Homo sapiens: one gene and its partners. The protein of the gene in region 3 purifies or fractionates together with the protein of the main gene of each other region. This does not show direct contact. Each region holds a gene or a part of one and is shown on either strand. Other genes may lie near its edges.

Region 1 (3,500 bases), on a different chromosome or scaffold from region 3:
GGAGGCCGAGGCCGATGGATCACCTGAAGTCAGGAGTTCGAGACCAGCCTGGTCAGTAGAGTGAAACCCCATTTCTCCTAAAAATACGAAAATTAGCTGGGCATGGTGGCACACGCCATAGTCCCAGCTACTCAGGAGGCTAAGGCACAAGAATCACTTGAACCCTGGAGGTGGATGTTTCAGTGAGCCGAGATCACACCACTGCACTCCAGCCTAGGCGAGAGAGACTCCATCTCAAAACAAAACAAAACAAAACAAAACAAACACCTCTTCATCAAAGGAATGAGAACACAAGCCATAGACTGGGACAAAATATGTGCAAAAGACATATCTGATAAAAGACTTATCTAAAAAAAATAAAGAACCCTTAAAAGTCAACATAAAAAATGAACAATCTGATTTAAATAGGGGGAAAGGATCTGAACAGGTACCTCACCAAAGAAGATGGCCAAGAAGCATATGAAAAGATGCTCAACATCAAGATGCTCACTAGGAAATTGCAAATTAAAACGAGATACCACTACACACTTATTAGAATGGTAAAAAACCAAAACACTGACAATACCAAATGCTAGTAAGGATGTGGAACAACAGAAACTCTCATTCATTGCTGGTAAAAATGCAAACTGGTGCAGCCACTTTGGAAGACAGTTTGGCAGTTGCTTATAAAACTAAACATAATCTTACCATACAATCTAGCAACTGCACTCCTTTGTACGTACCCAAATGAGTTGAAAACTTAGGTCCACACAAAAACCAGACGTCTACAGCAGGTTTATTCATAACTGCCAAAACTTGGAAGCAACCAAAATGTCCTTCAGTAAGTGAATAAATATTCATACAATGGAATCTTATTCAGCAGTAACAAGAAATGAGAATGACATGGAGGAACCTTGAATGCATATTACTTAGTGAAAAAAAAAACAGTCTGAAAAGGCTACATGCTGTCTAATCCCAACTATATGACACTCTGTTAAACGCAAAACTATAGAAACAGTAAAAAGATCAGTGACTGCCAGGGATTAGGAGAACAAAGCATAGAGGTTTTTTGTTGTTGTTGTTTTGTTTTTTCCAGGGGGAGTGGGGGCGGGGGCAGTGAAACTATTCTGTATGATATAATAATGGTAGATACCTGTCATTATCCATTTGTCCAAACCCATAGAAGGTACAACACAAAGAGTGAATCCTAATGTAAACTATGGACTCTGGGAAATGCTGATGTCAATGTAAATTCATTAATTGTAACAAATGGACAACTCTGGTGCTGTATGTTGACAGTGGAGGAGGTTGTGGGTGTGTGGACCAGGAAGACTCTCTGTACTTTCCATTGGATTTTGCTGTGAACCTAAAACTGCTCTAAAACATAAAGTCTATTTTCAAAAAATTTTATTTTTAGAGACAGTGTCTTTCTATGTTGCCCAGGCTGGCGTCCAATTCCTGGGCCCAAGGGATCCTCCTGCCTCAGCCTCCTGAGTAGCTAGGACTACAGATGTGTACTACCACACAGGCCAAACTCTACTTAAAAACAAAACAACACAAAACAAAAAAACTTCTGCCAGGTGCAGTGGCTCACACCTGCAATCCCAGCACTTTGAGAGGCCGAGGCGAGTGGATCACCTAAGGTCAGGAGTTCGAGACCAGCCTGGCCAACATGGTGAAACCCTGTTGTCTCTACTAAAAATACAAAAATTAGCTGGGCGTGGTGGCAGGAGTCTGTAATCCCAGCTCTTCCGAAGGCTGCGGCAGGAGAATTGCTTGAACCCAGGAGGCGGAGGTTGCAGTGAGCCAAGATTGCACCCTTGCACTCCAGCCTGGGTGACAAAGCAAGTCTCCATCTCAAAAAACAAACAAACAAAAAATGATTTAAATGTAAGACCTCGAACTATAAAAACCCAAGAAGAAAACATAGGAAATGGCATTTTGAACATAGACCCTGGCAAAGATTTCATGACGAACACTCCAAAAGAAATTGCAACAAAAATAAAAACTTACAAGTGAGACCTAATTAAACTAAAGAGCTTCTGCACAGCAAAATAAACTATCAACAAAGTAAACAGACAACCTACAGAATGGTAAAAAAAAATCTGCAAACTATGCATCTGACAAACGTCTAATAACCAGAATCTATAAGGAACTTAAATCAACAAGCAAAAAACAACCCTATTAAAAAATGGGCAATGGACATCAACAGACACTTCTCATATGTGGCCAACAAGCATATAAAAAAATGCTCAACATTAACTAATCATTAGAGAAATGCAAATAAAAACCACAATGAGACATCTCACACCAGTCAGAATGGCTATTATTTAAAACTCAAAAAACAACAGATGCTGGCAAGGTTGCAGAGAAAAGGAACGCTTATATACTGCTGGTGAGGATGTAAATTAGTTCAGCCACTGCGGAAAGCAATGTGGCGATTTCTCAAAGAACTTAGAACATTCGACCCAGCAATACCATAATTGGGAATATACCCAAAGGAATATGAACCATTCTACCATAAAGATACATGCATGTGCATGTTCATGGCAGCACTATTCACAGTAGCAAAGACATGGAATCAACCTAGATGCCCATGCAAGGGATGGACTGGGTAAAGAAAATGTGGTATATATACACCATGGAATACTACACAGCCATTAAAAAGAATGAGATCATGTCCTTTAGAGCAACATGGACAGTGCTGGAGGCCATTATCCTAAGTGAATTAATGCAGGAACAGAAAAACCAAACATGGAATGTTCTCTCTTGTAAGTGGCAGCCAAACATCAAATACCTATGGATACAAAGAAGGGAACAATAGATACCTGGGCCTATTTGAGGGTGGAGGGTGGGAGCAGGGTGAGAATCAAAAAATTACCTATTGGATGCTATGTTCATTACCTGGGCGGCAAAATAATCTGTACATCAAACCCCCAGGACACACGGTTTACTCATAATAAATCTGCACAGATACCCTGCAAACCTAAAATTGGCCCAGGAGTTTAAGACCAGCCTGGACAATACAGTAAGACCCTGTTTCTATGAAAGATAAAAATTAAAAAATTAGTCAGATGTGGTGGCGCATTCCCGTAGCCCCAGCTACTTGGAAGGCTGAGATGGAAGGATCATTTAAGCCTAGAAGGTTGAGGCTGCAGCGAGTCAAGATCACACCACTGCACTCCAGCCTGGGTGAGAGTAAGACTCTATTTCAAAAAAAAAAAAAAAAAATTGGGGGAAAAAATACAGCAATGATAAATGATTTTAGACAAAACTAAAAAATGAAGTGATGTTTTTATCTAAAGAAAATCCTCGGCCAGGAGCGGTGGCTCACACCTGTAATCCCAGCACTTTGGGAGGCCGAGGCGGGCAGATCACAAGGTCAGGAGAGCGAGACCATCCTGGCTAACATGGTGAAACCCCGTCTCTACTAAAAATACAAAAATTAGCCGGGCGTGGTGGCGGGCACCTGTAGTCCCAGCTACTTGGGAGGCTGAGGCAGATGAATGGCGTGAACCCAG
Region 2 (3,500 bases), on a different chromosome or scaffold from region 3:
TTTTTAGAGACAGGGCCTTGCTTGTCATGCAGGCTGGAGTGCAGTGGTGGGATCATGGCTCACTGCAGCCTCCAACTCCTAGGTTCAAGTGATCCTCCCACCTCAGGCTCCCCAGTAGCTGGGTCTACAGGTGTGTGTCACCATGTCCAGTTCATCTCTTTTCTTTTAACATTTTTAAAAATGTATTTTACTTTTTACCCAGACCCCTATGAATTTAACCAGGTAATTAAAAAAATTTTTTTTTTAATAGAGATGGGGTTCTCACTTCATTGCCCAGGCTGGTCTTGAACTCCTGGGCTCAAGCGCTTTTCCCATCTCAGCTTCCCAAAGTGCTGAGATTACAGGTGTGAGTCACTGCACCCGGCCTCCCAAGGTTCTCTGAAACTCTACTGTCCTGTGATTCCATGGCCTGTACTAAGGAGCCATCAACTTGACTGACGAGGTAGGAAATGATCCGGGTGGTGGAGCTGTGAGTGGATGGCTGGGACCCGGCCCTTCACCAGCTCCACGACAGTGGGAGGCTCCCAGCTGCTTACCTCATACTCCAGGAACCTGGCAGAGTCATCCAGGACCATTTCCTCTCGCTTCGGGGGGGTGTCCCGGGTGGCCAGGGCCAAGCAGCGCAGGGTGTCCCGGCCAGTGCCCCACTCCTTGATCACCGCCATGATCTTTTCCTTCACCGGCCCCGTCAGTGGCACCCGGGTGGTGCCAACTCGCACATAGTTACAGCGGTCGATGACGCCCTCAGGGGCACCCTAGGAGACCAGAACAGCATTCAGAGACCACCACTTTCCTTCCAGGGCAGTGACAGGTGGCTAGGAGTAGGAAGAAGAGGGGGCTGAGGCACATTCCGATTTCTGACCTTGACAAACATCTTGTTGCCCACAGCAGCCCGGGAAGATTTGGCTGGGGAGCAATAGACAGACATGGACTTTCTGTCTCGGGAGAACTCCAGGGTGAATTCCTTCTTCATTAGCTGGCGGATCACCTGGAGAGGAGACAGGGAGGGGAGACCAGTCCTCTTAAAATGGTCAAAAAGAATCTGGAGGTCAGAGCAGACCCCAAGCTAAGGCTGAGACTAACACTAAGTCTGGTCCCTATAGCACAAAAGGAGAAAATCCCAAGGCTAGTGTTGCCACAGTGCTTCAGGGTCCTAGGTTAAAGCACAGAAGAAAAGGATGGCCTATTGTGGCACTGTCCCACAGAACTTTCATTATTGGCCAGGCGCGGTGGCTCATGCCTGTAATCCCAGCACTTCAGGAGGCTGAGGCGGGTGAATCACTTGAGGTCAGGAGTTCGAGACCAGCCTGGCCAACATGGTGAAACCCTGTCTCTACTAAAAATACAAAAATTAGCTGGGCAGAGATTGCAGTGAGCCAAGATCGCACCATTGTACTCCAGCCTGGGCGACAAAGCGAGACTCCGTCTCAGAAAAAAGAAAAAAAAACTTTCATTGTTTGTTTATTTATTTTTATTTACTTATTTTTTTCTTTAGAGACAGAGTCTTGCGCTGTCTCCTAGGCTGAAGTACAATGACGTGATCATAGCCCACTGTAGCCTTGGCTCTGGCAATCCTCCTGCCTCAGCCTCCCAGCCAGCTGAGTAGCTGGGACCACAGGTGTATGCCACCACTCCAGGCTAATTTTAAAAAAATGTTTTAGAGATAGAGTCTCCCTGTGTTGTCCAGCCTGGTCTCACTCGTGGCCTCAAGCAATCCTCTTGCCTTGGCCTCCTAAAGCATTGGGATTACAGGCATGAACCACCACACCTGGCCCTATAACTTTTAGTAATGATAGAAATGTTATGTGATCTGCACTGTACAATTGGTGCAACTGAGCAATTGCTGTGGAGCATTGGAGGTACTCTGTATATTATTTAATTTGAATTAATTTTTATTTATTTATATTGAGATGGAGTCTTGCTCTGTTGCTTAGGCTGGAGGGCAGTGGTGCAGTCTTGGCTCACTACCACCTCTGCCTCCCAGGTTCAAGCCATTCTCCTGCCTCAGCCCCCCAAGTAGCTGGGATTACAGGCACACGCCACCATGTCCAGCTAATTTTTGTATTTTTTAGTAGTAGACCAGCTTAACCAACATGGAGAAACCCCGTCTCTACTAAAAATACAAAATCAGCCAGGCGTGGTGGCACGTGCCTGTAATTCTAGCTACTCGGGAGGCTGAGGCAGGACAATCACTTGAACCCAGGATCACACCATTGCACTCCAGCCTGGGCAACAAGAGCAAAACTCTGTCTCAAAAAAAAAAAAAAAAAAAATGAAGGCCAGGCGCAGTGGCTCACGCCTGTAATCCCAGCACTTTGGGAGGCCGAGGCAGGCAGATCACGAGGTCAAGAGTTCAAGACCAGCCTGACCAACATGGGGAAACCCCATCTCTACTAAAAATACAAAAATTAGTTGGGCGTTGTGGCACATGCCTGTAATCTCAGCTATTCAGGAGGCCGAGGCAAGAGAATTGCTTGAACCCAGGAGGCGGAGGTTGCAGTGAGCCGAGATGGCCCCACTGCACTTCAGCCTGGGCAAAGCAGAGAGACTCCGTCTCAAAAAAAAAAACTCGTCTCTACTAAAAATACAGAAAGTTAGCTGGGCATTGTGGCTTGCATCTGTAATCCCAGCTACTAGGGAGGCTGAGGCAGGAGAATTGCTTGAACCCAGGAGGCGGAGGTTGTGGTGAGCTGAGATCATGCCACTGTACTCCAGAATGTGTGACACCGCAAGACTCTCAAAACAGACAGACAAACAAACAAACAAACAAACAAACAAAAAGAATGAAAGCCTTTTTCACCAAATGTATCATGGATACTTCTCCAAAAAATAAAACAAAAATAAAAAGAACAAAACATCAGTAGCCAGGAAAAGTGGTGCATGCCTGTAGCTTCATCTACTTGGAAGGCTGAGGCAGGAGGATGGTTTGAGCCCAGGAGTTCAAGGCTGCAGTGCGCTGTGATCACACCTATGAATAGCCATTGCACTCCAGCCTGGGCGACAGGCCAAGACCCCATCTCAAAAATAAATAAATAAAAATTTATGTTTGCATTATCATTTATAAATTTTAAAAATTAGTCCTCTATTGACAGGTATTTAAGTTGCTTTCAGTTTGTTTATTTTGGAGACAGGGTCTCCCTCTGTTGCCCAGGCTGGAGTGCAGTGGTGCAATCACTGCTTGCTGCAGCCTTGACCTCCTGGGCTCCAGCAGTCCTCACACCTTAGCCTTCCTAGTAGCTAGAGTACAGTTTTGCACCACCACACCCAACTAATTTTTTTCTTTTTTTTTTCTTTCTTTCTTTGTTTTTGTTTTCGTTTTTTTTTGTAGAGATGCGGGTCTCACTATGTTGCCCAGGCCGGTCTTAAACTCCTGGGCTCAAGTGATCCTCCCACCTCAGCCTCCCAGAATGCTGGGACTATAGGCGTGAGTCTCTGTGTCTGGCCCGCTTTTTTGTTATATTAAATAAAGTAGCAATGAGCATTTTGCATATACAAAAAAA
Region 3 (3,500 bases):
AGTGCTGGGATTACAGGTGTGAGCCACCGTGCCCAGCCTTAATTAGTTAAAATTTAAATAGCCATATGTAGCTAGTAGCTACTGTGTTGGACAGCATAGCACTATATGGCTCATTGGGTAGCATCTCAAATCCTTTTTGTAATTAGGTGAATCTAAACTAACAGAGAAAAACAATTGATAAAGTCATCAGTAACCTTTAAGAGTACAATTTCAGTAGCAAGAGTGTGTGGGTTTATGTGTAAGTGTGGGTAAATGTGTGAGTGTGTATGTATTGGGTTGGGTGAGGAAGATAATTACAGGGACTGAAAAGAAGGAATAGATTGTCAGGAAGCAGCAGCTATAGATGCAGGCAAAATGAATTCATTAAGATGAATTCATTTTAGAAGTCTGAATTAAAATGAATTCATTTTAGAAGTTTGGCTTTGATGGGCACGGTGGCTCACACCTGTAATCCCAGAACTTTGGGAGGCCGAGGCGGGTGGATCACCTGAGGTCAGGAGTTTAAGAGCAGCCTGGCCAACATGGTGAAACCCTGTCTCTACTAAAAATACAGAAAATTAGCCGAGCATGGTGGTGTGCGCCTGTAGTCCCAGCTACTCGGGAGGCTGAGGCTGAAGAATTGCTTGAACCCGGGAGGTGGAGGTTGCAGTGAGCCAAGGTCACACCACTGCACTCCAGCCTGGGCAACAGAGCAAGACTCCATCTCAAATAAATAAATAAATACATAAGTAAATAAATGAAGTTTGGCTTTGAAAGTCAGGAGACTTTCAAATAATTCCTTATTTTTCAGATGTGGAATTATTCAGTGGTTGTCTACTGTATCAATATTTCAACCCAATTTGGCTTCTCTGTGGGAATGACTGCCAAGACAACACGTCCAGTCCTTACTGGGATCTAGCTACTAGCTCCAAGTACCTAATGGATGATTCGACTTAAGAGTCCTGCTGTCATCTCAAACTTTTCTCCAGGAACAGCTTACTCAGGTCAACCCATGATTTCAATACCTAATATAAGACTCTTTTTTTTTTTTTGGAGATGGAATTTCGCTCTTGTTGCCCAGGCTAGACTGCAATGGTGCCATCTCAGCTCACTGCAACCTCTGCCTCCCGGATTCAAGCAATTCTCCTGCCTCAGCCTCTCGAGTAGCTGGGATTACAGGCATGTGCCACCATGGCTGGCTAATTTTATATTTTTAGTAGAGATGGGGTTTCTCCAGGTTGGTCAGGCTGGTCTCAAACTCCCAACCTCAGGTGATCTGCCTGCCTCTGCCTCCCAAAGTGCTGGGATTACAGGCGTGAGCCACCGCGCCTGGCCAAGACTCATTTAAAAAAAAATTCTAGGGAAAAAAATGTCCTATAAGGGTGTGGTGTCTTGGAACCTCTATTATTAATGAAGGCCTCAAAAAAATGTTATACCTTGCTTTTAAATCAAAGCATAAAATGAAAAACTAGTACTTTGCTTTAATCAGCAGACAGAAAAATACTTCAGACAAAATCACTAAGGTTTACTATTAGACTTAACTGGCAGGTCCCCATTTAACGAACAATATAGCTCTTGTCCACACCAGAAGTTCAGAAACACCTCTGTTCTGATCTTTCTCACTTTGCCATCCACCATCCCTTCTAGGAGTCAGAGGTAAAGCGACTGGGATATTTCTTGTTGTTGGTACTCCCTCCCACTCTATTTTTCAATTTGTTTCACCTTTGCCAATAGAAAATGTTGGCAAAATATTCAACTCCTATATGATCCAGCAATTCTACTTCTAGATATATATCCAAAAGAACCAAAAGCGGGGTCTTGAACACAGATATTTGCACACAACTCTTACCTTGTGCGGAGGGAGTAGCAGTGACAGTGAGGTCCACAAGCTGGCACAATAAAGAACCAGGGCTGATCCCAGGTGGGCAGCAAGGCGGTACTGACTGACCCGAGGGATGTCATGGGAGTCTGATTTTTCTTCTAGTCCACTTTTCACCATATACCATCCCAACAGACCCTAGAACCCCCAAGAGATGAAGCAAACAAAACAAGGTTAAAATGATCTGTTCAACTTTCTTTTTTTTGTTGTTTTTTTGAGACAGAGTCTCACTCTGTCACCAGGCTGGAGTGCAGTGGCGGGATCTTGGCTCACTGCAATCTCCGCCTCCCAGGTTCAAGTGATTCTCCTGCCTCAGCCTCCCAAGTGGCTGGGACTACAGTTGCGCATCACCACGCCTGGCTAATTTTTGTATTTTTAGTAGAGATGGGGTTTCACCATGTTGGCCAGATGGTGTCAATCTCTTGACCTCGTGATCCGCCCACCTCAGCCTACCAAAGTGCTGGTATTACAGGCGTAAGCCACCACACCCGGCCTGATCTGTTCAACTTTACTGAGGAAATGAGCTATCAGGAGTACTCTCTACCCCACCCCTCCTCTTTCCATACCCTCCCCAATACGCAGTGTCCCAAGATTCATGATTTATCCACAGTTCTTCACATATCACCATTAATACTTAACTACTATTTAGATCAGAAGTGTCTGATCTTTTGGCTTCCCTGGGCCACACTGGAAGAATTGTCTTGGGCCATGCATAAAATACACTAACACTAACAGTAGCTGATGAGCTTTAAAAAAAAAAAAAGGTCCATGGATATATCTCATAAAACTAGATTGAATGTTTTGGAGAAACTTAATAAAGGTAAATGCTTAAAAACATCTACTGTCAAGTTAGGTTGGAATAAGACAATTATAAAAGTTTCAGGGGAAAATCATAAAAATCAATAAGGTTTTGCATGCAGATCGCTTTGCAAATATCTAAGTTCCCACTCCGCTTTAAGCAAAACCACAGTTTATGGGGATATAAGAAACCTGCAGTTGAATGCCAATCTGGGGACGCATAGTCAAAGAAAAGGCCTTGATTTTGTAAAAGTTGGTAATGAACGTACAGATTTAAGTTTAAAAGTTTATGTTATGTATCATATTCTATGATTCTCTGCTTTAACTGGCTTTTTCAATTAACCAAACAATTGTTAGTTCCAATCATATGAAATAAGACAGCCCTTTCACTCCCACTTGCCAGTAGAATCAGGTCAAAGAGGTGGACTCTGCCACTTCTAAATATATACTCTTCAGGAAATCTTTTTGGGCATTTCTCTCCCCTTTCAAGATTACCCTGGATATTCTAATTACCTTGATTTCATCTGCAAGAGACATTGAAAGATGAAGACGTACACAGTTGATTCACTAGCCCACTTTCTTCTCCCATACCTTATCTGACATCTTTAATTTCTGCCTCCCTAATAGTGTTTTCAGTGTTGGCTTGTTTTTCTAATTCTAAAATGTTAACTTTCATTTTGTTCTACATGCCTTTCTCTGGTTACTATTAGACTTTGATTATTGTTTCTGCTGCCTCTATTTCTTCTCTCTCATCTCCCTCCTTAATCCCTTCTTTCTTTATTTATTTTTTTTGAGCCAGAGTCTTGCTCTGTTGCCCAGGCTGGAGTGCAGTGGTGCAACCTCT
Region 4 (3,500 bases), on a different chromosome or scaffold from region 3:
AGGGGCGTGATAGAATCTGGTTTACATTCTAAAAGACATTACTATGGCTACTATGTAGAGATTAGAATGGAAGATTATCAGGAGGTTAGGAAGATCTGTAGTCATCCACTTCAGAGATGAAGGTGACATGAGCTAAAGACAGCAGCAAAGGTGATGACAAATGGTCAGACTTTTAAAATCTGTAGGTAGACCCTACTACATCTGGCAAAATGACCAGCTAATAGGTCACTAGGCATATTTCTTCTTCCTTCTGGACAAATGATGACTGTATGTCTCAGCCTCTCTGTGAAGTATGGCCACGTAATAGTTAAGTTCTAGCCAACCCAACGGATAGAAGGGATATGCACCACATCCAAGTCTGGCCCATGAAAACCTCCCAGCTGCCCTCTCCCAACCAGGGAATTCCCAGGACACTGAGCCCTGGAGGAGGGCAGCCAAACTATGCAGGCACCTGGGCCCCTAAATGACCACCTGGAAGGCCACCCACTAAGTGGGAATATAGCTTTTCACTTTCATGTGAGCAAAAATTAATTTCATTTATGGCATATACTGAGATATAGGGGTTTATTTCTTATAACATCTCTTGCTACTCTAATACAGAAATACACTATAGAAATTGCTGAAAATTTGGATGTCGGTAAGGACAAGTGAAGATTTGGGACGATTTCTATGTTTGTGGCCAGGGCAACTGGGAGAAGGGAAAAGACTGAAGAAGACTGCAAGTTCTGAAAGATCAAGAGTTTTGTTTGGATATAGTAAATCTGAAGTGTCCACTGATGTCCAAGTAGAGATTATAAATATGCAGGATGAAGCTAAGGAGAGCAGTGGGACTACATTTGAGAACGATCAGAATGTAGACGGGGTTTAAAAGAGATGATCTGGGTAAGATCACCAGAAGATTTATTATGAGGACAAAAGACTGAGTCCTGGGCAAGCCAACATTCGGGGATCAGAAAGAAGAGGAGGAACCAGCAAGAGATAATTCTAGTGAGTGCTATGAGGCAGGAAGAAAACCAAGAGAGGTTGGAATTTCAGAAGCCAAGTGAAGAAAGGAGAGAGCAGACAAATATGTTGAATGCCGCTAAGAGGTCAGGCGATCAGAGGGCAGCAAACTGACCCCTGGATTTGGTACAGCAGCTTTAACAGAGAAAGCCTACCGGGAATGGTTAAAGGAATCATTCAGGTAAAGGTTTTGGATCAAGGTAACACAGTAACTCTACAGTGGTAACCCCATCTACGGTTTTGCTTTCTGAGGTTTCAGTTACCCACAGTCAACTGCAGTCTGAAAATATTAAATGGAAAATTCCAGAAGTAAACAGTTCCTAAGTTTTCAATTATGCACAGCTCTGGATAGTGTGAGGAACTCTCTTCCTGTCCTGTTCCATCCCACATGGGACGATGTCCACACTGTAGGTGTCACACTCCAGTCACTTAGTATCCATCTGGGTTACGACTGCTGTGGTATCTCAGTGCGTGTGTTCAAGGAATCTATACTTTACTTAATAATGGCCCTAAAGCACAGTAGTAACGATGCTGGCAATTCAGATATGTCAAAGAGAAGCCATAAAGTGCTTCCTTTAAGTGAAAAAGTGAAAGTTCTCAACTTAATAAAGGGCTGGGCGTGGTGGCTCATGCCTGTAATCCCAGCACTTTGGGAGGCCCAGCAGGCGGATCACTTGAGCCCAGGAGTTCAAGACCAGCGTGGCCAACATGGCGAAACCCCGTCTCTACTAAAAATACAAAAAATTAGCCAGGCATGGTTGTAAGCACCTGTAGTCCTGACTACTCAGGAGGCTGAGGCAGGAGAATTGCTTAAACCCGGGAGGCGGAGGTTGTAGTGAGCCAAGATTACACCACTGCACTCTAGCCAGGGCGACAGAGCGAGACTCCATCTCAAAAAATAAATAGGCCAGGCACAGTGGCTCATGCCTATAATCCCAGCACTTTGGGAGGCCGAGGTGGGCGGATCACCCAAGATCGGGAGTTTGAGATCAGCCTGACCAACATGGAGAAATCCCATCTCTACAAAAAAATACAAAATTAGCCGAGCGTGGTGGCACATGCCTGTAATCCCAGCTACTCAGGAGGCTGAGGCAGGAGAATCACTTGAACCCGGGAGGCGGAGGTTGAGGTGAGCCGAGATCACGCCATTGCACTCCAGCTTGGGCAACAACAGTGAAACACCGTCTCAAAATAAATAAATAAATAAATATATGAAAATTAGCCAGGTATGGTGGCACACACTTGTAATGCCAGCTACTTGAATGGCTGAGACAGGAAAATCGCTTGAGCCTGGGAGACAGAGGTTGCAGAGAGCTGAGAGCACACCACCGTACTCCAGCCTGGGTGACAAAGTGAGAATCCAACTCAAAAGAAAAAAAAAAATTAAAGAAAAAAAAGCTCATATGATGAGGTTGCTAAGATCTATGTTAAGAACAAAACTTGTATCCATGAAATTGTACAGGAGGAGAAAGAAATTCATGCTAGTTTTGCTGTCGCACCTCAAGTGAAAAAATTCCAGCCACAGTACATAACTGTTATTATTGTGTATTGTTATAATTTTTCTATTTTATTAGTTATTGCTGTTAATCTCTTACTGTGCCTAACTGATAAATTAAACTTTAGCAGAGGAATAGATGTATAGGAAATAACATAGAATATATACAAGGTTCAGTACTATCTGAAGTTTCAGGCATTTACTAGGATCTTAGAATGTATACTCCAAGGGTAAAGGGGGGACTCTATACTCCCAAAGCACTTCCCCAACTCCTACTCCTGGCCAAGATGGAGTAACAGGGACCAGATTTACCCTCCTGCCTGAACAACCAAAGCTCTGCACAAAATAAATAGAACAATAGTTTCTGGCCGGTTGTGGCGACTCACGCCTGTAATCCCAGCACTTTGGGAAGCCAAGGCAGGAGGAACACTTGAGCCCAGGAGTTCGACACCAGCCTGGGCAACTTAGGGAGATTCCATCTCTACAAAACTTGAAACAAAATTTAGCTGGGTGTGGTGGCATACGTCTATATTTCCAGCTACTTGGAGAGGCTGAGGTGGGAGGATCACTTGAGCCGGGGAGGTTGAAGCTGCACTGAGCCGAGATCACGCCACTGCTCTCCAGCATGGGTGACAGAGCAAGACCCTGACTCAATTAAAAAACAAACAAACAAACAAAAAACACTAAAATCACTGTTATGCTCTGGAGATACTTAGAAATACTGAATAACTGTATACTTTATTGGAAAAAATTAAGAGTTCAACTAAGGAAGAAAGCCATGGAAGAAGCAAATACCAGAGAGGAGAGTGAAGGCTAATCAGGGCAATAGAAGACAAGCCAAAATATGCAATGGGCAAAAACTAAGGAGGGACTTAATTTCAAGAAAGTGGTATCAAGCGTATTCAATACTTCAGAGAAGTGGAGAGGAACAAAGTCTGGAAAAAAGCCATTGGATTGGTTAATTAGTTGGCCATTTATGACCTTTCAGAGAATGACAGTGAGA
Region 5 (3,500 bases), on a different chromosome or scaffold from region 3:
TACCAAACCATATTACCTAACCTCAAATGGACCCTTTATCATCTCTCATCTTTTCTAACCTTTTCTTTTTTTCTTTTTCTTTGTTTGTTTGAGATAGAGTCTCACTCTGTTGCCCAGGCTGGAGTGCAGTGGTGCAATCTTGGCTCACTGCAACCTCTACCTCCTGGGTTCAAGCGATTCTCATGCCTCAGCCTCCCGAGCAGCTGCGACTACAGGTGTGCATCACCACCACGTTAGCCAGGCTGGTCTTGAACTCCTGGCCTCAAGTGATCCACCTGCCCTTGGCCTCCCAAAGTGCTGGGATTACAGGCGTGAGCCACCGTATCTGGCCTCTAACCTTCTTTTATGGACTTCTTTCTAGAATACCCCCCAACAAATTCCAGAACAGTAATTGTCAACTCTGGCTACACATTCAGATCCTGAGGAGTTTAAAACAAATTCTGATCTAGGTCCCTTGATCAATCAAATAAGAATTTCTCATTTTACTGGGAAAGGGTAGCTATCTATATATAATTTTAAAGTAATTCTAATGTGCAGCTCAATTTGAAAACCATTGTTCAATAACCTCTTTTGATAACTTAGGAAATAGGAGATCAGTGGATCAGCTTTTAACAACCACATCGGAGACTACAGCTTGCTAGATCCTGAACTTACACATCCCAAGCCATCTGCAGTGGATTTGTCCTCCAAGGTGAAGTCAACATGGCTCCTCTACCCATTTCTTTATCACTCATTAATTTCATATAACCTCACAATATGACTTGTGACTCACCACTGATTGAACTAAAACTGGTTTTTTGAAGGTCACCAAAATATTTCTAATCAATTCAAAAGGCGATTGGATTCATCCTCAAATATGAAGTTCAAACGCCTGTTCTGCCCTTCCATCTTCCCTCTTATGAACCTTGGTATCATTAGTTTCTGTGATCACAAAAGCTAAAAACCTCATACATCTTTATTTTTTTTCTTCTCTCACCCTCAAGTTTAGTCACTAAGCCTTAATAAATTTCCATTATATATTCCCTCACTGCCTCTGGAATCTCCTCTCTAGAGTTAGTCCCTCTGATTCAGCTTGGCCAGTGATATTTTAAAATGCAGTCTTAACTTCTCCTTTGTTCCAAATTGTACAGAAGCTACATCCCTAAGCATTCCAGACTATGTCAGTTTAATTCCAATCTTTCAACTTCATTTAACTCTCACATGAACCCTACAAAATAACTGGATGAGCGGATATAGTTGGTGCATTAAGTCTTTTTTTATGAGGCAGAGTCTCACTCTGTCACCCAAGCTGGAGTGCAGTGGCGCCATCTCAGCTCACTGCAAGCTCCGCCTCCCGGGTTCACGCCATTCTCCTGCCTCAGCCTCCCGAGTAGCTGGGACTACAGGCTCCCGCCACCACGCCCGGCTAATTTTTTGTATTTTTAGTAGAGACGGGGTTTCACCGTGTTAGCCAGGATGGTCTCGATCTCCTGACCTTGTGATCTGCCTGCCTCCCAAACTGCTGGGATTACAGGCGTAAGCCACCGTGCCCGGCCACATTCTTTACACATCCTCTGTAGTGAGTTAAAGATCACCATGAATTCTTTGCCATTCCTCCCACCAACAGGTGGAGACTATTTACCCCCACTTTGAATCTGGACTGGCCTCATGACTTTGACTAAGAGAATGTTACAAAGGGCCCTTTAAGAAACCTGGTACTCTCTTGAGATTGAGATTGTCGTGGCCAACATGGTGAAACTCCATCTCTACTACAATATAAAAAATTAGCCAGGCGTGGTGGCGCATGCCTGTAATCCCAGCTACTTGGGAGACTGAGGCAGGGGTATCTCTTGAACCTGGGAGGTGGAGGTTGCGGTGAGCTGAGATTGCGCCACTGCGCTCCAGCCTGGCGACACAGCAAGACTCTATCTCAAAAAAAAAAAAGAAAAAAGAAAGAAACCTGTACCCTCCACTTACTCTGTTAGACAATTGCCATGCTATAAAGCTTTGACTAAACTCTTAAATCATAGAAATCCACACAGAAAGAGACCTAAAAGATATTCCAGCCGAGGCCAACCTCTGAGCTGAACACAGCCTGCTCGATTGAGTTCAGTCTGCAGCATGTGGAACAGAAACACTGCCCAGCTGAGCCCAGTCAAACCACAGAATTATGGGAAGTAAGAAATCACTGTTTTAAGCCACTAAGCTTTGGGGTGGTCTGTTAGTGAAGCAATGGTGAATTCCAACATCCTCAGAGCACCATCATCTGCCTTCTCTCCAATAACCAAATAATCACCCATCCTTCAAATTAGTGGACAAGCATCACCTCACAGAGTTCTTCTCAACTACTCTGCTGGCCTGGAGTACCTCCTCTAGCATCTGACATGCTATATAACTCATGCTGACCCTCTTGTCTGGTGCCTTGAGTTATCTCTTACATAATTATTTTACTTCTAGTAATTACGATGGTTCCCATTGAAGCACAGAAAATGGAACTTGTGCTTGTTTCTTGTAAGTTAAGTGTAACATATGTGTTTTAAAATATTCCTCCAAAATGTATGAGAAGGCATCCAGGTAAAAAATTCATGCTACTTCATGCAACCCACCTCAAGTGGTTCTCAACCCTGGGGGTTAAATATATGAGACAGTGTTTATTTAGACCAGGACTAGGGCTAATGAAGCAAAGCAGACTTAAGACTAAAAATCTGGAGCCATGGAAACAAAGTCTTATCAGGATAAGGGTAGACACTTTGATTAATGATCGGACTCAAACAGCTTGAGAATATAAACTGAAGGCTCATTAGTTATTAATAATTCCAATTTAATTATAATTAAAACCAAATTTGGAGTTTCTTTATTTCAAGGGCTCTCAAAAGCCCAACCATCAGCCAAAATCTATCTTCAATTAGATAATGATTAGGAACTTAATACAGCAAGAATTTTGTTTCACACTGAAGTTGAATATTACTTTGTTTTTTTAAAGTTTATATGCAGATTCTTGCTCTAAATTAGTGATCTAAACCTTTTAATCATAGGACCCTACAGAGTAAACAAGTTTGGAGTAAACATCCAATCCATAGACATGTTTTACTGTAACACATAATGCACATTAGAAAACAAAGGACAAAACTGAAACTTGGTACAATGAGAAAAAATAAAAATAAAAGTGCCAACATATTCTTCCAGTACCCTAAAGTATCACCTTGAATATCCCTTTGGGGAGTACAAACCCCACTTGGTAGATAACTGCGCTGGTTCATCAACTGATAGGGGAAAAACCCAACCACACTCTTGGTCTTCATGTAATTCTGTGAATAAAATTTGAAATAAATATATTAAATAAATAAAGTAATACCTGCTGGTGGAAAAGTTCTTCCTCAACAACCACTCCAGCTGCTTCTTCCTCCTCCTCCTCTTCTTCAGGTATGGTTGTTTTAAAGACTGTACTTCTTTGAGCAACCTCCTAAAAACAATAGTAGTTTAAGTTAAAAAACACACTTAAAATCACCAAATGCGGGGGA
Region 6 (3,500 bases), on a different chromosome or scaffold from region 3:
CAGCTTGGCTGTTTCATGCCTGGGCACGCCCCTCCCCTGCTCACCTGTCGTAGAAGTCGTCCCGGTAGTAATCATAGTCAAAGATGTAGCCACTGGGGAAACAAAGGGGAGAGGGCTGGAGCTTAGGGACGGCCACTCAGCCCACTTTCCACAGGCCCTCATCTCCAGACACCTCCCCAAGTTCTAGATTCAGCACACTGTCACACCAGCATTTACTCCCTCTGTGGAAAGAGAGAGTCATCCCACCAGACAGACAGACAGTCAGACAGCCCCACCTGTATATGGCAGATGCTGCTCTCTTTAGCCCCTTGGGTCTGTCAGGCTTAGGCTCTCCAGCCATGTTGATGTCTGTGTGGAGGGAGAAGGCAGAGTTGGAATGCTAACATGACAGTGTGCCCACACACATCAACCTCATGCACACGCACAGCAATTCATGTGCTTACACGGTATACACATGGATTCTGCTCACTGATGGTGCCAACAAAGGTCTTCATACATCTAATCTTCAAACATTAGATTCATATCCAGGTATCACATGGATATGCCTGTTTATATGTCCATACACTTTCAGATCCATCCAGGCATGCTCATAAACATGTCCTCCCCCCCGCCCCACCACACACACACGTCGAATATTCCTATATGCATTCTCAAATACACTCATGTAAATGCGTAACACATCAGGTACATGGGAACGCATACACAGAGCCACACTCACACATACATTCACATATCCAGGTAAGAAACTCACACACAGGTAACGTGTATTCTCAAGTACACTCAGTATAGACAACTACCCACATGCAAATGAGCCAATGCACATTCACATGGATGTTCTACCAAACACCTTCATGCCTAGAATAGTCCTTACTACATGAAAAGGTCTCAATAAATACCTGGTAAATGAATATATGTATATCTGCTGACACATTCAAATATGTTCTCTCTCTCACACACACACACACACACACACACACACACTACATCTATACATACAAGGGTTGTGTCCACATATCTCCACATGTTCAGTCAATCCATATACTTCTTGTTCAGGAAAAAACACATACAGATACCCCTTTTCAAACATACACATATACACAGGAGTAAATGCACATGCATGAACACTGTACATACTTCAAGAGAGACCACTAGCATAGTCATATCACATGGACATGACACCAAAACCAAGCGTATTCACACTGTCCTTGTGCTCTCAGGCCCTCCTGCTCGCTCTCAGAAAGGGTTCTAACCTAAGTCATCTGTACCCGGTGTAACAGGCTGTTCTAGGCCACTCTGTTCTCTTTCTCTGGAGAATCTGCATTTTAACTGGAACTGTAAAGCCTGTCACTAAGAAGCTCTGAGAAAGCAGAGACAGGTCAGAAGTGTTTTCCAGAGGCTTCTAAAATTCTTCCCTATAGGGATTAATTTTATAACTATTTAAAACTTAAACATAGCTTATAAATTTATAAAATCTCAGAGCAGTGGTAGCGGTGAGAGAAAGAGAGAAGGGGGTTGAGAACTGGATAGTGATAGCAGCTATTCTAGAGAATACTAGGAGAATATAGTGAAGAGAGGCTTACCCAGGGTCTGCCCGGCCAGCACCCGCCCATTCTCTCCCAGCACAGCTGCCCGGGCATGGCGCTCATTGGAGTACTGAACAAAGGCATAGCCCTTGTGCACAGAACAGCCGGCCACACGGCCATACTTAGAGAAGATGGTCTCCACATCTGATTTCTTCACCAGAGCTGTGTTGAGGTTTCCAATGAAGACTCGAGAGTTGATGGACTTGGGGTCATTCTTGTTGGTTACATTGCTTGCCTGAAGCTTCAAGGACATGGTGCCCACCTGAAGAAAAAGAGCCTCGGTGAAGCTGGGTCCCTGGGCTGGGCTCAAGGACTGCCCACGGCCCATATCCTGGATAAATGAATTGCCTCTTACCTTCCTTAACCCTTATAGCATCCAGCCTACCTGTTCCTGCATCTTGTTTTCTTGTCATATTACCAAGAGTTGCCACATATTGGCTGCTGACCTCATGCCAGGTGCTTTACATACATTCCCTCATTTGTTACTCACATGATATGCAGAACCACAACATTTTACAAGGGAGAAATCTCACATTCAGAGAGACCACAATGTTAGTGAATGGCAGGGCTGGGATCTGACCCCCTGATCTGCTTGACTCTAATTCTTTTGAGTCTACTCCTTTAATGCTCATCTCAAATGTTATCCCATTCAGGATCTAAATTTGAAGATCTTCAATGTAGAACCATGGTCACATGGTATTTGCAAGTGATGTTTACTCTAGACCACCACCATATGATGAAAATTGCAGGGGCCGGGCATGGTGGCTCACAACTGTAATCCCAGCACTTTGGAGGCCGAGACGGGTGCATCACCTAAGGTCAGGAGTTCGAAACCAGCCTGGCCAACATGGCGAAACCCCGTCTCTACTAAAAATACAAAAAATTAGCCAGGCGTGGTGGCGGGTACCTGTAATCCCAGCTACTCGGGAGGCTGAGGCAGGAAAATTGCTTGAACCCAGGAGGTGGAGGTTGCAGTAAGCCACTGCACTCCAGCCTGGGCGACAGAGCCAGACTCTGTCTAAAAAAAAAAAAGAAAAGAAAAGAAAACTGCTTAGTCTGATCCAGACACAGACCTGTCTGAATTGCTACCAACCATTTTGAAAAGGGTATGCTAGCTAAGCCCGATAATGGTTTGAATTTGTGTCCCCGCCCAAATCTCATGTCTAATTGTAATCCCCAGTGCTGGAGGTGGGGCCTGGTGGGAGGTGACTGGATCATGGTGACTGAAATCATGCATTTCCCCCTTGGTGCTGCTCTCATGATAGTGAGTGACTGCTCGTGAGATCTGGTGTTTAGACGTGTGTAGCACCTCCCACTGTCTCTTTTCCTCCTGCCCTGGCCATATGAAGACGTGTCTACTTCCCCGTCGCCTTCCACTATGATTGTAAATTTCCTGAGGCCTCCCAAGAAGCAGAAGCCTGTACGGCCTGCAGAACTGTGAACCAATTAAACTTTTCATTATAAATTACCCAGTCTCAGGTATTTCTTTATAACAGTGCAAGAATGGACTAACACAAAGCCTCACCAGGCACTCGCTGTGGCTAAGGGTGGTATACAATACTGAATAATCCCAAGATCCCACAAGTTAATGTCATGATTACTCATATTTTACCAGAAACTGATTGACAAGTTCATTAACTTACTAGTAATGAGCATTCGAACACAGGTCAGTCTGTCACTAAAGTCTATTTCTTTCAACTTTATCATTTTGCTTCCCAGAGCTAAAGCCAATTTAGATACCACAGAAAGTCAGCACATTCACCTGAGAATTATTTTTAATAAATTTATTTTTTAGTTACCCATATTAATACTAACTCGTTCAAATTTTGTTCTGTTTGGCTTAGAGATGAGACTGCACCTACCCTTTGCTCTCTATATTCTGGCCAGGTCTTTTACCCCAAAGGGCTGTACAAATTT
Region 7 (3,500 bases), on a different chromosome or scaffold from region 3:
TTGAGAGATTTATTTCTGGTTCCATGGCTGGAGCAACTGCACAGACTTTTATATATCCAATGGAGGTGAGTACCATTGTCAAGTCTGACTGTGTGATGGTGTTCGTGTTGGTTGTCTATTGCTCTCTAACAAGTTATCCCAAAATTAACAGTTTAAAACAAGCATTTATCATCGCACAGTTTCTCTGGGTCAGGAATCTGGAAGCAGCTTAGCTGGGTGCCTCTGGCTCAGGGTTTTTCACAGCCCACAGTCAAGATGGTAGTCAGAGCTTGGAATCAGCTGGAGGCGGATTCCAAGCTCACTCATGTTGCTGCCAGGCCTCACTGGCTATTGGCTGGAAACATCAGTTCCTTATCACGTGAGCCTTTCTGTAGGCTGCCTGAGTATCCTCAAAACACAGTAGCTGGCTTCCCTAGAGTCAGTGGTCCAACAGAGAGAGAGAGAGAGAGTGCCTAAGATGAAAGCTGGTATCTTTTGCCTCTTCTGCTGTATTCCATTGATCACACAGACCAACCCTGGTAGAGTGTAGGAGGGGCTGGTATAATGGTGTTAATAACCGGAGACAAATATCACTGGGGGTCACTTTAGAGGCTGGCTGCCACTTTAGAGGCTGGCTGCCATTCCTGTCCAAAGAGTTTCTGTACCATAAATTTAATAATGGAATCTCAGGATTTGATTATATGGTGATTATCCTAATTAGACATCCTTTCATTAGTGCATAGGTTGGCAAAACACAGACCTACGGACTGTTTCATACAGCCCTTGACCTAAGAATGCCTTTTACATTTTTAAAAAGTGGGCAACACAGGAAAAAGTGAGAAAGATCTAAAATCGACACCCTAAGATCACAATTAAAAGAACTAGAGAAGCAAGAGCAAACAAATTCAAAAGATAGCGGAAGACAAGAAGTAGCTAAGGTCAGAGCAGAACTGAAGGAGATAGAGACACGAAAAACCCTTCCAAAAATCATTGAATCCAGGAGCTGTTTTTATGAAAAGTTTAACAAAATAGACAACTAGCCAGAATAATAAAGAAGAAAACAGAGGAGAATCAAATAGACACAATAAAAAATGATAAAGGGGATATCACCACCAATCCCACAGAAATGCAAACTACCATCAGGGAATACTATAAACACCTCTATGCAAATAAACTAGAAAATCTAGAAGAAATGGATAAATTCCTGGACACATACACGCTCCCAAGACTAAATCAGGAAGAAGCTGAATCCCTGTATAGACCAATAACATGTTCTGAAATTGAGGCAGTAATTAATAGCCTACCAACCAAAAAAAACCCAGGACCAGACAGATTCATAGCCGAATTCTACCAGAGGTACAAAGAGGAGCTGATGCCATTCCTTCTGAAATTATTCAAACAATAGAAAAAGAGAGATTCCTCCCTAACTCATTTTATGAGGGCAGCATCATTCTGATACTAAAACCTGGCAGAGACACAACCAAAATAGAAAATTTCAGGCCAATATCCCTGATGAACATCAATGTGAAAATCCTCAATAAAATACTGGCAAACTGAATGCAGCAGGACATCCAAAAGTTTATCCACCATGATCAAGTTGGCTTCATCCCTGGGATGCAAGGCTGTTCAACATATGCAAATCAATATAACGGAATTCATCAATAAACAGAACCAGTGACAAAAACCGCATGATTATCTCAATAGATGCAGAAAAGGCCTTCGATAAAATTCAACACCACTTCATGTTAAAAACTCTCACTAAACTAGTTATTGATGGAATGTATAACAAAATAATAAGAGCTGTTTATGACAAACCCACAGCCAATATCATACTGAATGGGCAAAAGCTGGAAGCATTCCCTTTGAAAACCGGCACAAGACAAGGATGTCCTCTGTCAGCACTCCTATTCAACGTAGTATTGGAAGTTCTGGCCAAGGCAATCAGGCAGGAGAAAGAAATAAAGCGTATTCAGATAGGAAAAGAGGAAGTCAAATTGTCTCTGTTTGCAGTTGACATGATTGTATATTTAGAAAACCTCCTTGTCTCAGCCCCAAATCTCCTTAAGCTGATAAGCAACTTAAAGCAAAGTCTCAGGGTACAAAATCAATGTGCAAAAATCACTAGCATTCCTATTAACCAATAATACACAAACAGAGAGCCAAATCACGAGTGAACTCCCATCCACAATTGCTACAAAGAGAATAAAATACCTCGGAATACAACTTACAAGGGATGTGAAGGACCTGTTCAAGGAGAACTACAAACCACTCCTCAAGGAAATAAGAGAGGACACAAACAAATGGAAAAACATTTCATGCTCATGGATAGGAAGAATCAATATCATATCATAGGAAGAATCAGTGGCCATACTGCCCAAAGTAATTTATAGATTCAATGATATCCCCATCAAGCTAACATTGAATTTCTTCACAGAAATAGAAAAAACTACCTTAAATTTCATATGAAACTAAAAAAGAGCCTGTATAGCCAAGACAATCCTAAGCAAAATGAACGAAGCTGGAGGCATCACGCTACCTGACTTCAAACATACTACAAGGCTACAGTAACCAAAACAGCATGGTACTGGTACCAAACAGATATATAGACCAATGGAACAGAACAGAGGCCTCAGAAATAACACCACACGTCTACAACCATCTGATCTTTGACAAAAACAAGCAATGGGGAAAGGATTCCTTATTTAATGTATGGTGTTGGGAAAACTGGCTAGCCATATGCAGAAAACTGAAACTGGACCCCTTCCTTACACCTTATAAAAAAAAAATTAACTCAAGATAGATTAAAGTCTTAAACATAGACTTAAACTATAAAATCCCTAGAAAAAAACCGAGGCAATACCATTCAGGACACAGGCATGGACAAAGACTTCATGACTGAATCACAAAAGCAATGGCAACAAAAGCCAAAATTGACAAATGGGATCTAATTAAACTAAAGATCTTCTGCACAGCAAAAGAAACTATCATCAGAGTGAACCGGCAACCTACAGAATGGGAGAAAAATTTTGCAATCTATCCATCTGACAAAGGGCTAATATCCAGAATCTATAAGGAACTTAAGCAAATTTACAAGAAAAAAAAACCCACCAAAAAGTGGGTGACGGATATGAACAGACACTTCTCATAAGAAGACATTTATGCAGCCAACAAACGTGAGAAAAGGCTCATCATCCCTGGTTGTTAGAGAAATGCAAATCAAAACCACAATGGCATACCATCTCACGCCAGTTAGTTAAAAAGTCAGGAAACAACAGATGCTGGCAAATATGTGGAGAAATAGGAATGCTTTTACACTGTTGGTGGGAGTGTAAATTAGTTCAAGCATTGTGGAAGACAGTGTGGCAATTCCTCAAGGATCTAGAACCAGAAATACCGTTTGACCCAGCAATCCCATTACTGGTTATATACTCAAAGGATTATAGATTTTTCTACTATAAAGACACATGCACACGTATATTTATTGCAGCACTGTTCACAATAGCAAAGACTTGGAACCAACC

Evidence for each region.
Region 1: the proteins of COX15 (region 3) and ETFA purify together in Homo sapiens (affinity purification with mass spectrometry, with the first as the bait; one large-scale study listed by BioGRID). This does not show direct contact.
Region 2: the proteins of COX15 (region 3) and ATP2A1 purify together in Homo sapiens (affinity purification with mass spectrometry, with the first as the bait; one large-scale study listed by BioGRID). This does not show direct contact.
Region 4: the proteins of COX15 (region 3) and CLCC1 purify together in Homo sapiens (affinity purification with mass spectrometry, with the first as the bait; one large-scale study listed by BioGRID). This does not show direct contact.
Region 5: the proteins of COX15 (region 3) and LMNB1 purify together in Homo sapiens (affinity purification with mass spectrometry, with the first as the bait; one large-scale study listed by BioGRID). This does not show direct contact.
Region 6: the proteins of COX15 (region 3) and RALY purify together in Homo sapiens (affinity purification with mass spectrometry, with the first as the bait; one large-scale study listed by BioGRID). This does not show direct contact.
Region 7: the proteins of COX15 (region 3) and SLC25A24 fractionate together in Homo sapiens (co-fractionation; one large-scale study listed by IntAct). This does not show direct contact.

The regions. Positions count from the first base shown.
Region 1 is NC_000015.10:76,301,470-76,304,969, forward strand, and holds part of ETFA (electron transfer flavoprotein subunit alpha, mitochondrial), read right to left. Parts: intron 1-3,500. UniProt on the Homo sapiens protein: Heterodimeric electron transfer flavoprotein that accepts electrons from several mitochondrial dehydrogenases, including acyl-CoA dehydrogenases, glutaryl-CoA and sarcosine dehydrogenase.
Region 2 is NC_000016.10:28,895,488-28,898,987, reverse strand, and holds part of ATP2A1 (sarcoplasmic/endoplasmic reticulum calcium ATPase 1), read right to left. Parts: intron 989-3,500; coding exon 863-988; intron 756-862; coding exon 537-755; intron 1-536. UniProt on the Homo sapiens protein: Key regulator of striated muscle performance by acting as the major Ca(2+) ATPase responsible for the reuptake of cytosolic Ca(2+) into the sarcoplasmic reticulum.
Region 3 is NC_000010.11:99,722,128-99,725,627, forward strand, and holds part of COX15 (heme A synthase COX15), read right to left. Parts: intron 1,997-3,500; coding exon 1,829-1,996; intron 1-1,828. UniProt on the Homo sapiens protein: Catalyzes the second reaction in the biosynthesis of heme A, a prosthetic group of mitochondrial cytochrome c oxidase (CcO). Heme A is synthesized from heme B by two sequential enzymatic reactions catalyzed by heme O synthase (HOS) and heme A synthase (HAS).
Region 4 is NC_000001.11:108,956,985-108,960,484, forward strand, and holds part of CLCC1 (chloride channel CLIC-like protein 1 isoform 1 precursor), read right to left. Parts: intron 1-3,500. UniProt on the Homo sapiens protein: Anion-selective channel with Ca(2+)-dependent and voltage-independent gating. Permeable to small monovalent anions with selectivity for bromide > chloride > nitrate > fluoride.
Region 5 is NC_000005.10:126,832,636-126,836,135, reverse strand, and holds part of LMNB1 (lamin-B1), read right to left. Parts: intron 3,443-3,500; coding exon 3,335-3,442; intron 1-3,334. UniProt on the Homo sapiens protein: Lamins are intermediate filament proteins that assemble into a filamentous meshwork, and which constitute the major components of the nuclear lamina, a fibrous layer on the nucleoplasmic side of the inner nuclear membrane.
Region 6 is NC_000020.11:34,070,411-34,073,910, reverse strand, and holds part of RALY (RNA-binding protein Raly), read right to left. Parts: intron 1,846-3,500; 5' UTR 1,837-1,845; coding exon 1,581-1,836; intron 349-1,580; coding exon 276-348; intron 93-275; coding exon 45-92; intron 1-44. UniProt on the Homo sapiens protein: RNA-binding protein that acts as a transcriptional cofactor for cholesterol biosynthetic genes in the liver. Binds the lipid-responsive non-coding RNA LeXis and is required for LeXis-mediated effect on cholesterogenesis.
Region 7 is NC_000001.11:108,144,844-108,148,343, reverse strand, and holds part of SLC25A24 (mitochondrial adenyl nucleotide antiporter SLC25A24), read left to right. Parts: coding exon 1-65; intron 66-3,500. UniProt on the Homo sapiens protein: Electroneutral antiporter that mediates the transport of adenyl nucleotides through the inner mitochondrial membrane. Originally identified as an ATP-magnesium/inorganic phosphate antiporter, it also acts as a broad specificity adenyl nucleotide antiporter.